2 separate regions of the Homo sapiens genome follow, and region 1 is linked to region 2. The links come from fine-mapping of genetic effects on gene expression. A gene starts in region 2. The other region holds a variant in brackets. All regions are shown on one strand. Distances are from middle to middle.

Region 1 (5,376 bases), 220 kb after region 2:
CTGGGCATGATGGCTCACGCCTTAATCCCAGCACTTTGGAAGGTTGAGGCCAGCAGATCATTTAAGCCCAGGAGTTCGAGACCAGCCTGGGCAACATGGCAAAACCCTGTCTCTACAAAAAATAATTTTAAAAAATTAGCCTGGCATGGCGGTGCATGCCTGTAGTCCCAGCTACTTGAGTGGCTGAGGTGGGAAGACCACTTGAGCCTGGGAGGTGGAGGCTGCAGTGAGCTGTATTAGTGCCACTGCACTTCAGCCTGGGCAACACAGCAAGACGTTGTCCCAAAAAAAGGGTAAAGGTTATATCATTAAGTAGCAAGGCATTAAAAGTCCATTAACCTGTGTGCAGCTTCTTTGTTCAGTACATACAGATTTGTACTCTAGCAGCTGGCCATCTAACATAGGGCAGCCAAACAGTGGCCTACTGCATTCCTGATCCCATATCTCCCTAGCTTTAGCCATAATGAGGTAGTGCTAAGGTGGCCCTTGATTCTATAAAGTTCAGGTTTGACTTTTTTTTTAACTTAGGGATTTTACAAAAGACTCTTTGTCTGAGCAAAGCTCATATCTTTCTGACCTCATCCAGGAATAGAAGAAGAGAAAAATGCAATTTCCGTGGGTTGAGCTGAGCACTTTTAAATGTCTGCAGGCTTTCTTGCTTCCCACTTTTCCATTCTTTCTCTGTGGTAGCTAGGACTACAGGAGTGTTGCCACCATGTCTGGCTCATTAAAATTTTTTTTTATTTTTATTTTTTAAGATGAGGTCTGTGTTGCCCAGGCTGGACTCAAACTCTTGGGCTCAAGCCATCCTCCCACCTTGGCCTCCCGAAGCCCTGGGATTACAGATGTGAGCAATTGTACCTGGCTAGAGCAGCAATTCTTAAGAGTGATAAACCAGAAAAAAATTGAGATATTTTAGTCAGAGATCATTTGAGTATTGCCTCGATTTGTTGTGTGACATTGGACAGATCACTGATTCTCTTTTCTCACCGATTCTCTTTTCTCACCTGTAAAATGTACATTTGAAAAGTACAGTGGGGGTCAGGGACACAGGCTCACACTTGTAATCCTAGTGCTTTGGGAGGCTGAGGCAGGAGGATCGCTTGAGACGGAGTTCAAGACCAGCCTGGGCAACATGGTGAAACCCCATTACTACAAAAAATAAAAAAACTAGGCCGGGTGCAGTGGCTCACGCCTGTAATCCTAGCAATTTGGGAGGCTGAGACAGGCAGATCACCTGAGGTCAGGAGTTCAAGACCAGCCTGGCCAACATGGTGAAACCCCATCTCTCTACTAAAATACAAAAATTAGCCAGGCATGATGGCGGGTGCCTGTAATCCCAGCTACTCGAGAGGCTGAGACGGGAGAATCGCTTGAACCCGGGAGATTGTGGTTGCAGTGAGCTAAGATTGCACCACTGCACTCCAGCATGGGTGACTGAGCGAGACTCTGTCTCAAAAAATAAATAAATAAATAAATAAAAATAAATTTAAGAAACCTAGCCAGGCGTGGTAGCGTGTGCCTGTGGTCCCAGCTACTTGGGAGGCTAGGATGGGAGGATCACTTGAGCCCAGGAGGCAGAGGCTGCAGAGAGCTGAGATCACGCCACTGCACTCCAGCCTAGGCAGCAGAGCAAGACCCTGCCTCAAAACCCGCCCCCCCAAAACCCAAAAACTAGCATTATTGGTTCATAGAGTTTGTTTCAAGAATTTTTTCTTTGCAGAGTAAAACACTGTCTTTTTTTTTTTTTTTTTTTTTTGAGATGGAGTCTTGCTCTGTCGCCCAGGCTGGAGTGCAGTGGCGCGATCTCGGCTCACTGCAAGCTCCACCTCCCAGGTTCACGCCATTCTCCTGCCTCAGCCTCCCGAGTAGCTGGGACTGCAGGCACCCGCTACCATACCCGACTAATTTTTTTGTATCTTTAGTAGAGATGGGGTTTCACCATGTTAGCCAGGATGGTCTCTATCTCCTGACCTTGTGATCCGCCTGCCTTGGCCTCCCAAAGTGCTGGGATTATAGGCATGAGCCACTGCACCCGCCAACACTGTCCATTTTTAAGGGAATTTGAGAAAAATAGAAACCATCATACTTTTCTCAAAATTAGGGTTAATCTTGGATTACAAAAGCCTGTCTCCCATCCCAGGACTTCTTTTGGAAATTGTTTTTTAGGGACTGGAGTTCTGGCTCTGTCACTTGAAACAGTCTTAAAACTGGATCTGGGGCCGGGTGCGGTGGCTCATGCCTGTAATCCCAGCACTTTGGGAGGCTGAGGC[G/A]GGCAGATCATGAGGTCAGGAGATTGAGACCATCCTGGCTAACACGGTGAAACCCTGTCTCTCTACTAAAAATACAAAAATGAGCCGGGCGTGGTGGCGGGTGCCTGTAGTCCCAGCTACTGGGGAGGCTGAGGCAGGAGAGTGGCATGAACCCGGGAGGCGGAGCTTGCAGTAAGCCGAGATCGTGCCACTGTACTCAAGCCTGGGGGACAGAGCGAGACTCCGTCTCAAAAAAAAAAAAAAAAAAGAAAAATAACTGGATCTGACAAAGAGCCCAGAAGCTTATTGGAGACAGCAGAACCTGGCTGGGATGAGGGAGGGAGCTGGAGAAGCCAAACAGATCACTCTTACCCTGCTCTATTTTGCCATTCCAGGTCGTCTCATCGCTGTCACCTGCCTGGTGTCTAGCTGGTGTCGGTGTCCTTGTGAACCTGGCTAACCCTGTTTACCTTGCTGCCCTGGCCTAGGAGTAGATACAAATTCTCAGGGCCTTGAGGAATCTGGGTTTTAGGGAATATTTTTGAGGGCTTAAAGAAGCTTCTATTCTTAAAGAGCTTTAGTTTGAGTAGATTTGGAATCAAAACAAGGCTCAGAGATCTGCTGGGAGTTACAAGATTTCTCTTTAATTATTGCATCTAGTGTCCCCTGTTTCTACTGAACAAAGCTTGGAAACAGTGAGGAAGAGTTGACATTCTGAGTGTGTCTTACGGGAAGCAAAAACATTTATTGGGCTTATTGTGCCAGATTGTGTGTGTGTGTGTGTGTATGTTATTCTATTACTGTGTTACATGCTTAACTATAGTCACTACAGCAATTCTGATAGTAATCAGGAGGAATAATAAGATACTCTTTTCTTTGAGACAGTCTTGCTGTGTCACCAGGCTGGAGTGCAGTGGCGCGATGTTGGCTTATTGCAGCCTCCATCTCCCAGGTTCAAGCTCCTCCCACCTCAGGCTCCAGAATATCTGGGATTGCAGGCGTGTGCCACCACGCTTGGCTAATTTTTGTACTTTTTTAAAATTTGAGGTGAGGTTTCATCATGTTGCCCAGGCTGATCTCGAACTCCTGGCATCAAGCAATCTGCCTGCCTCAGCCTCCCAGAGTGTTGGGATTACAGATGTGAGCCACTATGCCTAGCCAAGATACCGTTTTACTACTAAAAACAGTTTTGTCTGTTAAGCTGAGTAGTCTCTTCACATACTATTTAGGTCACAACTATTTATTGGGCCACGTGCTGTGGCACATGCCTATAATCCCAGCCCTTTGCTGAGGCGGGAGCATTGCTTGAGCCCAGGAGTTTGAAGCTGCACTGAGCTATGATTCCACCACTGCGCTTTAACCTGGGTGACAGAGTGAGACCCTGTCTCTTAAAAAAAAAAAAAAATTGAACATGGCCTAGATACCAAAAGATGCACTTCCAAGCCACTGGATTGTAAATCTGGTTGGGAAGATACTATGCAGAATACTGGGAGTTACGAAAAGCAGTGTGGGAGAGTAGAAAGAGCAGACATGTGCCTTGCCTATTTTTATTTGATCTGTGACCTTAAACAAATAACCTGAGTCCCAGTTTTCTCATTTGTGAAATGGGGATAATATTACATACTTCGCATGTGTGGCTATAAGACTTTTTAAAGATTTAATACACCGAAAATGCCTGGAACATAATAGATACCCAATAAATGGTAGCTGCTATTATTGTTAGTTAATACAGAGCATAGGAGTAAGACAAACACGTTAGAATCTATTATATTCCAGTCATATTGCCATTTCTTGACACATGCTTTTGACGTTACCTTCTACTTGGTGGCAAATTTTCATCTTTTAAGAGTGAATTTGATTTTTGGAATCACCAAAAAGCAGATTCAGACATAGGTATGAACATTTTCTTTTTTTTTTTTTTGAGGCAGAGTTTTGTTCTTGTTGCCCAGGCTGGAGTGCAATGGCACGATCTTGGATCACCGCAACCTCCGCCTCTTGGGTTCAAGCAATTCTCCTGCCTCAGCCTTCCGAGTAGCTGGGATTACAGGCATGCACCACCACATCTGGCTAATTTTTGTATTTTAATAGAGACTGGGTTTCTCCATGTTGATCAGGCTGGTCTCGAACTCCCGACCTCAGGTGATCCTCCCGCCTCGGCCTCCCAAAGTGCTGGGATTACAGGCGTGAGCCACCGTGCCTGGCATAGGTATGAATATTTTCATTGGTGATGGTGGTGGGGCGACCTCAGAAATGAAATGTGACCATCATATAATAGTGTTTACAGCTCTGACTGATAAACTTGCTTTGGAGGCAATTCCAAAAGAGGTGTTTGCAGTGTTTGAGCAATGAGACTGTTACTGGACATATGTAACTTCCCACAATGAATCTGCTGTATATATTTTGAAAATCGCTCATTGATATTAGAGTAAGTGACATAGCCTGTATATGCTGTGGGAGAGCAGAGGTGGAGGGACTCAGAAGAAAATGGATTGCTTTGGGAAAGCCTTGAGAAGATGGGACTTGGATTGAACCTTGAAGGGTAGGGAGGATTTGGTAGTAAGGGAAGGGGGGATATCAGAATATTGTGAGGGGAGTCACAAGAGCAAAGCATATAATTTGGTTTATTCAGCAAACATTGATTGAGCACCTGCTGTGTGCTGTACATTTGGCTGAACTTGGGAACCCAGAAGGAGGAACTGCTCTGACATCAAGGGGTACACAGTATACTGGGGAAAGAGCACACAGAATAAATAATTATAATAGTCTATTCAAGTGGTAGGTATGCACAAGCTGCAGTGGAAGTGCAGAGGAGGGCTCCTAACCTAGCCTAGCAATAAGAAGGGAAGAGGAGAAGCCAAGCTCAAGCTGATTGGTGTGGTAGGTTACTATGTAAGCAAAGGCTTTGAGACTTTATTTTTTTACTTATTTATGTATTTGAGATGGAGTCTCTCTCTGTTGCCCAGGCTGGAGTGCAGTGGCACAATCTGGGCTCACTGCAACCTCCACCTCCCAGGTTCAAGTGATTCTTGTGCCTCAGCCTCCTGAGGAGCTGGGACTACAGGCACACGCCACCACACCGGGCTAATTTTTTGTATTTTTAGTAGAGATGGAGTTTCATCATGTT
Region 2 (5,376 bases):
TGAGGTAGGAGAATCGCTTGAACCCGGGAAACGGAGGTTGCAGTGAGCCGAGGTCACGCCACTGCACTCCAGCCTGGGCGATAGAGCAAGACTCTGACTCAAAAAAAGGTAGGTAGATGACCTTTGGCAAGTTATGTGTATTAAGTACATTTTCAACTTATGAGTGGTATATCAGCACATCACCCCATTGTAAGTTGAGGAGCATCTGTACTCTATCCTAACCTTTATCATAAACCCATCTAGTGACTGCTTATTTACATGTCTATATTACCCACTAAATTTTCTGTGTACTGACATCGGGTTTTGTTCACAGCTATATTCCCCAGGGGCTAAGCACTGTCTGGCACATAAAAGCATTCATGAGTATTTGTTGATAGAATAGGTGAATGTAATCCTCTTTTTTTCTTTTGCTTGTTGTTGTTTTTAATAGACGGAGTGTTGTTCTGTTGCCCAGGCTGGAGTGCAGTGGCACAATCAGTGCTCACTGTAGCCTCAAACTCCTGGGCTCAAGCAAGCCTCCTACCTCCACCTTCTGAGTAGGTGGGGCCACAGGCCTGTGCTACCTGCTACCACTCCCAGCAGAATAAGTGAATGTAATATTCATCACAACAAATGAAGTATTATTTTTATGAGAACACTGAAACTCACTGAAATGATCTGTTCAAACAGATCAATCTAGAATCTTACTCTTTCATCTAGAAAGAGTAAGCTGACAATTGTACAACTGCACCCCAAATTGTGTTTGTTTGTTTCTTTCCTGAGACAGGGTCTCACTCTGTTGCTCTGGCTGGAGGGCAGTGGCAGGATCATGGCTCATTGCAGTCTCGACCTCCCAGGGCTCAGGTGATCCTCCCACCTCAGCCTTCCAAGTAGCTGGGACTACAGGGGCACCACCACGCAGGGGTAACTCTTTGTATTTTTGGGTAGAGACTGGGTTTTGCCATGTTACGCAGGCTGGTCTTGAACTCCTGGGCTCAAGCAATCCGCCTGCCTCAGCCTCCCACAATGCTGGGATTACAGCCATGAACCACCGGGGCCCAAATGCACTCCAAGTTTTTTACCCCCAGAACTCTCACTTCTTGGTGGGGGTTTGCGGGAAGCTTACCTGGGAACTAATGGCATACTTCAGGTAGGACAAGATGAGAGGATTGGGGGATGGTCCAATCATGGCCTGCTCTAGTAACGCATCTGCAAGAGGAATAGCAAAACACAACTGAGTGATTACAACTTCTCTGGGTTTATCCCTCCCATCTTTCTTTCCCAGTTCACTTGAGACCTGCCAGGTTGAGAATATCCCAGGTGGCTCCTTTAGGAAAGAATTTCTTCATGTTGATTGCCCATTGGTAGTCACTCCAGCGCTCCTTCCAGGCTTGCAAAATGGCTTGCTTCAGGTTGACCACCTTCATTATTTCACTCTGAGCAGGTGGCAGCGGTGGCGGCCAGCTTTGAGGTGAAAGAAATGGAGCTAAAGAAAAGGACATGAGGTTCTAAGGAGAACCGGGGAAGGCAGAATTAAATAGAAAGGAGAAGATGCGGGAAGATTTAAGCGAGACAGAGGAATTTGAAAGAAAAAGAGCTAAAGGGATAAAGTAAGATCCTGTCAGACTCTCTCCTCCTGAACCGCCCTTCCTTAAACTGGGGCACTAAGAAAGTATCGGCCGAGCGCAGTGGCTCGCACCTGTAATCCCAGCACTTCGGGAGGCAGAGGCGGGCGAATCACCGGAGGTCAGGAGTTCGAGACTAGCCTGACCAACATGGAGAAACCTCGTCTCCACTAAAAATACAAAATTAGCCGGGCTTGGTGGTGCATGCCTGTAATCCCAGCTACTCGGGAGGCTGAGGCAGTAGAATCGCTTGAACCCGGGAGGCGGAGGTTGTTGGGGTGAGCCGAGATCGCACCATTGCACTCCAGCCTGGGCAACAAGAGCAAAACTCCGTCTCTCAAATAAATGAATAAAGAAGTATCAAAGGGACTAATAGATTAAACAGGGCATCAAGGAGTTAAGGCAGTCCTGGTTGCCTAATTACGCCCTTAGCTCTAAAAGCGTCCCTTGGCCACCACCATTCCAAGTCCAGATTTGCTCCCTCATTTCCTCCACCTTCTCCAGCCCTGTAACTATACCTCCCAATTTCCTTTTCATCCACCACCTCCCCAAATTTAAGCCTACCGCACAATCCAGTTCTAGGTGGTAGGCATCGCCATTTTGGCACTTGTCAAGAAGCTCACTTTCTATTGGCTGGGAGTAACAAACGCCAACCAATAGAAATGCAGCAAGGAACGCCCCGCTGTCTTCTGGGAATGGTAGTTCCTTGGACTGAAACCGTATTTGTCTGCGCCGGCGAGGAAACTAAGGGACTCGTCTAGTCGGCCCGCATTGTTCTTCTCCTTTAAGGGAGGACATCCAGGAGCTGAGGCACTACAGAGACTCAGGGACTCGAGGGAGCTCGAAAGGCCGCTCACAACCCGGCGTCGCCCACGACGTCACTGTCGACCGGGCTTCTCCATCATATTCCGACACCCTTTCATTCGTTAGCCCCTAGTTAGTAGGTGCGGCAAGGGTGTGGCGTGGGGGCAAGGGTGTGGCGTTCAGCAATAAGGTCTTTCTCCTTTCCTGGGCTCTTTCTGTTCTCCTAAGCCCCTGGAGCTACCAGAGCTATTCTCATTTCCACAACTATATTCTAAAAGCGACACCGAGGTGCCTTAGTTGCACACATATCACCGTCCCCGAATCTTACAGTCCTATCAGAATCTCCAGGCCCTCCATACAGCTTGGATACAAGGGAAAGTAAAGAGGAAACTAAGGTGAAGGTGATCAAAATCAAAGGAATTCTGAGAAACTGTCACAACTAAGAGGGCTAAGGAGACCTGATGACTAAATGTAATGTGGTTTTCTGAATGCGATCATGGAAGAGAAAAAGAATACTGGGTAAAAACTAAGGAAATCTAAATAAAGGGTGGACTTTAATTAATAATAATGTATCAATATTAGTTCATTAGTTGTTACAAATGCATAATACTAATGCTAAGATGTTAATAAAAAGAGAAATTGGGTGCAGAATATGTGGGGACCCTCTATTACCTTCCATTTTTTTCCTGTAAATTAAAAACTTGTTTTTTTAAGTTTCTTGTTGTTGTTGTTGTTGTTGTTGTTTAAATCTTGCTTATCCCAAAGATCCATATATAAATTATGCCCAGGGCTTTGGCCATAGCCTTTCCTTCCCCCAGTGAGAAACCCGAAAGCAAATGTTACCCACCTCTGGAGGCTCCAATGTCTGAGCCTTCTTATGCATAGCCCTCATCCCTCCCCATGCTATGGACTGGTCATCCCTAACATTTACAACCAGGAATAAGAGTAAATTACTCGGGAGGCTGAGAAAGGAGGATCACTTGAGCTCGGGAGTTCAAATCCAGCCTGGGCAACATAATGAGACTCTCAGCTCTACCAAAATACATAAATAAATAAACATGGAGGCCTTTAGCCAGGGCCCAATATCCTAGTTCACAAGTTCAAGCTCAATCTGTATTCCTCAACAAAGATTCTTTTTTTTTTTTTTTTTGAGATGGAGGCTTGCTCTGTTGCCCAGGCTGGAGTGCAATGGCGCAGTCTCAGCTCACTGCAACCTCTGCCTCCCAGGTTTAAGCAATTCTCCTGCCTCAGCCTCCCAAGTAGCTGGGATTACAGGCGTGTGCCACCACATCCGACTAATTTTTGTATTTTTAGTAGAGACAGGGTTTCGCCATGTCGGCCAGGGTGGTCTCAAAATCCTGACCTCAGCCACCCACCTTGGCCTCCCAGAGTGCTAGGACTGTAGGCATGAGCCACCGTGCCTAGCCTCCAACAACCATTCTTTGCTCACCCTTTGAGTGGCAAAATCAGTCCTCGGGAGGATAAATCTGGGAGAGCAGCCCACTTAAGGCTCTGGAAGCAAAACTGTGGCCATTTGGGCAGAGAATTACAGCGCCCTGGGTGTCTGGAGAATGGTCTAAACAGGGAGTCAAGAACTTCTGTTCCAAAGGGGAGAGTGTGGCTGAAGGAGGGTCAGATCATGTCCTCCTGCGGTTGGTACTGCCTATGGCCTTTCTTCCTCCCCATACATTCAATCCACACCCCTCTCTTAGGCTCCCTTTGTGCCTGCCCAAGTGACACCATTGGGGAATAGTGTGTATACAAAACAGCTGCCAAATATATGTTGCCAAAGCTTCTAAAGCAGGAAGGAGGGAAATACGGATTCCTCACCTCACCTTCCAGATGACCCCCGGCCACTCCACTCATACTTGAGACTGCCACAAACCCTGCTTCTCCTCAGTCTCTCACATATCTGACTTCCCCTGTTCTCCCAGGCCCCTCACTCTACCTTTGCCTGCTCCCCTGCTGTCATTCTGTGCCTGTAGCCACAGCCTAAGGCCCTCCACCTGGAGCCATTCCTGGATCATCCTGGAGCCCCTGTCGCATACCTCAGAGCCCAAACTGCCTCTCTTGGAGAGAAGCTGTCAACTGTGTGTCCGGTCCACACAGGACTGGGGACTATTTGGGCCCTGAGGATGGTGATATTTTGAGCTCAAACCATTCCCTCTGGCAGGGAGCCTGGCAGATTTCTAGGGAGGTGCCTCCTCCCCACTTCGCAGTGACAGGGAGGCGGCTTTTGTAGTCAGGCCATCTGCCTTCTCTGTCTCCCCACCTCCCACCAGCAGCCCTTTCTCTAGGCTTGGCAAGGTTTCCCCAAAGGCTGGACTCCTATGTACAAAGGCTCCCTTAGCTCTGGGCAAGGACCATTTTTAGTTTATCCACTTTGACCTCCCTGCCTCTCTAGTCTGTAAACATCAGAGGCAGCCTTTCCTATATCACCTCTTCCTTCCACACCACAATATCTTCCTAGGGACCCCCTTGGGCTCTCTGGCTCACTGCAAGCACAGGACCGGGACCCCATGATAATCCTCCAAAGGGTGAAGAGAGATGCTAACATTTCCTTTGGGTGTACAAAAAAACAGCCCCCCAACCGGGCGCGGTGGCTCACACCTCTAATCCCTGCACTTTGGGAAGCCAAGGCAGGCAGATCACCTGGGGTTAGGAGTTCGAGACCAGCCTGACCAACATGGAGAAACCCCATCTCTACTAAAAAACAAAATTAGCCGGGCATGGTGGCGCATGCCTGTAATCCCAGCTGCTCGGGAGATGGAGGTAGGAGAATTGCTTGAACCCAGGAGGCGAAGGTTGCGGTAAGCTGAGATTGCACCATTGCACTCCAGCCTGGGCAACAAGAGCGAAACTTCGTCTCAAAAAAAAAAAAAAAAGCCCTCCAGCCCATCTCAAAGCCCCGTCCTACTTACCCCACTTTCTTTTGCTGTTCATTTCCTCTCAACAGGGACAGGGGCCG

Alleles and levels. Alleles are on the strand shown, and positions count from the first base shown. SD is a standard deviation of normalised expression in the study named.
For the expression in caudate of the gene that starts at base 2,216 in region 2, allele G in region 1 goes with a lower level than allele A (large effect, 0.86 SD a copy in GTEx).

The links. PIP is the estimated chance that this variant, and not a neighbour inherited with it, causes the effect. A credible set is the group of variants that fine-mapping cannot tell apart.
Region 1: its variant is the best candidate, but not a certain one, in a credible set for the expression of MED24 in caudate (GTEx, PIP 0.60).

Annotation. Positions count from the first base shown.
Region 1 is chr17:40,267,864-40,273,239 of GRCh38, forward strand. All of the region lies in intron 5 of WIPF2 (WAS/WASL interacting protein family member 2), which reads left to right. Among named protein-coding and RNA genes, the nearest start is that of CDC6, 17 kb to the right of the region's middle. The variant G/A (reference allele first, on the strand shown) is at 2,274.
Region 2 is chr17:40,052,193-40,057,568 of GRCh38, forward strand. It overlaps MED24 (mediator complex subunit 24), which reads right to left and starts at 2,216. Exons shown (of 26, transcript NM_014815.4): 1 at 2,169-2,216; 2 at 1,277-1,443; 3 at 1,106-1,188. The coding sequence starts at 1,406. RefSeq lists an enhancer at 2,416-2,475.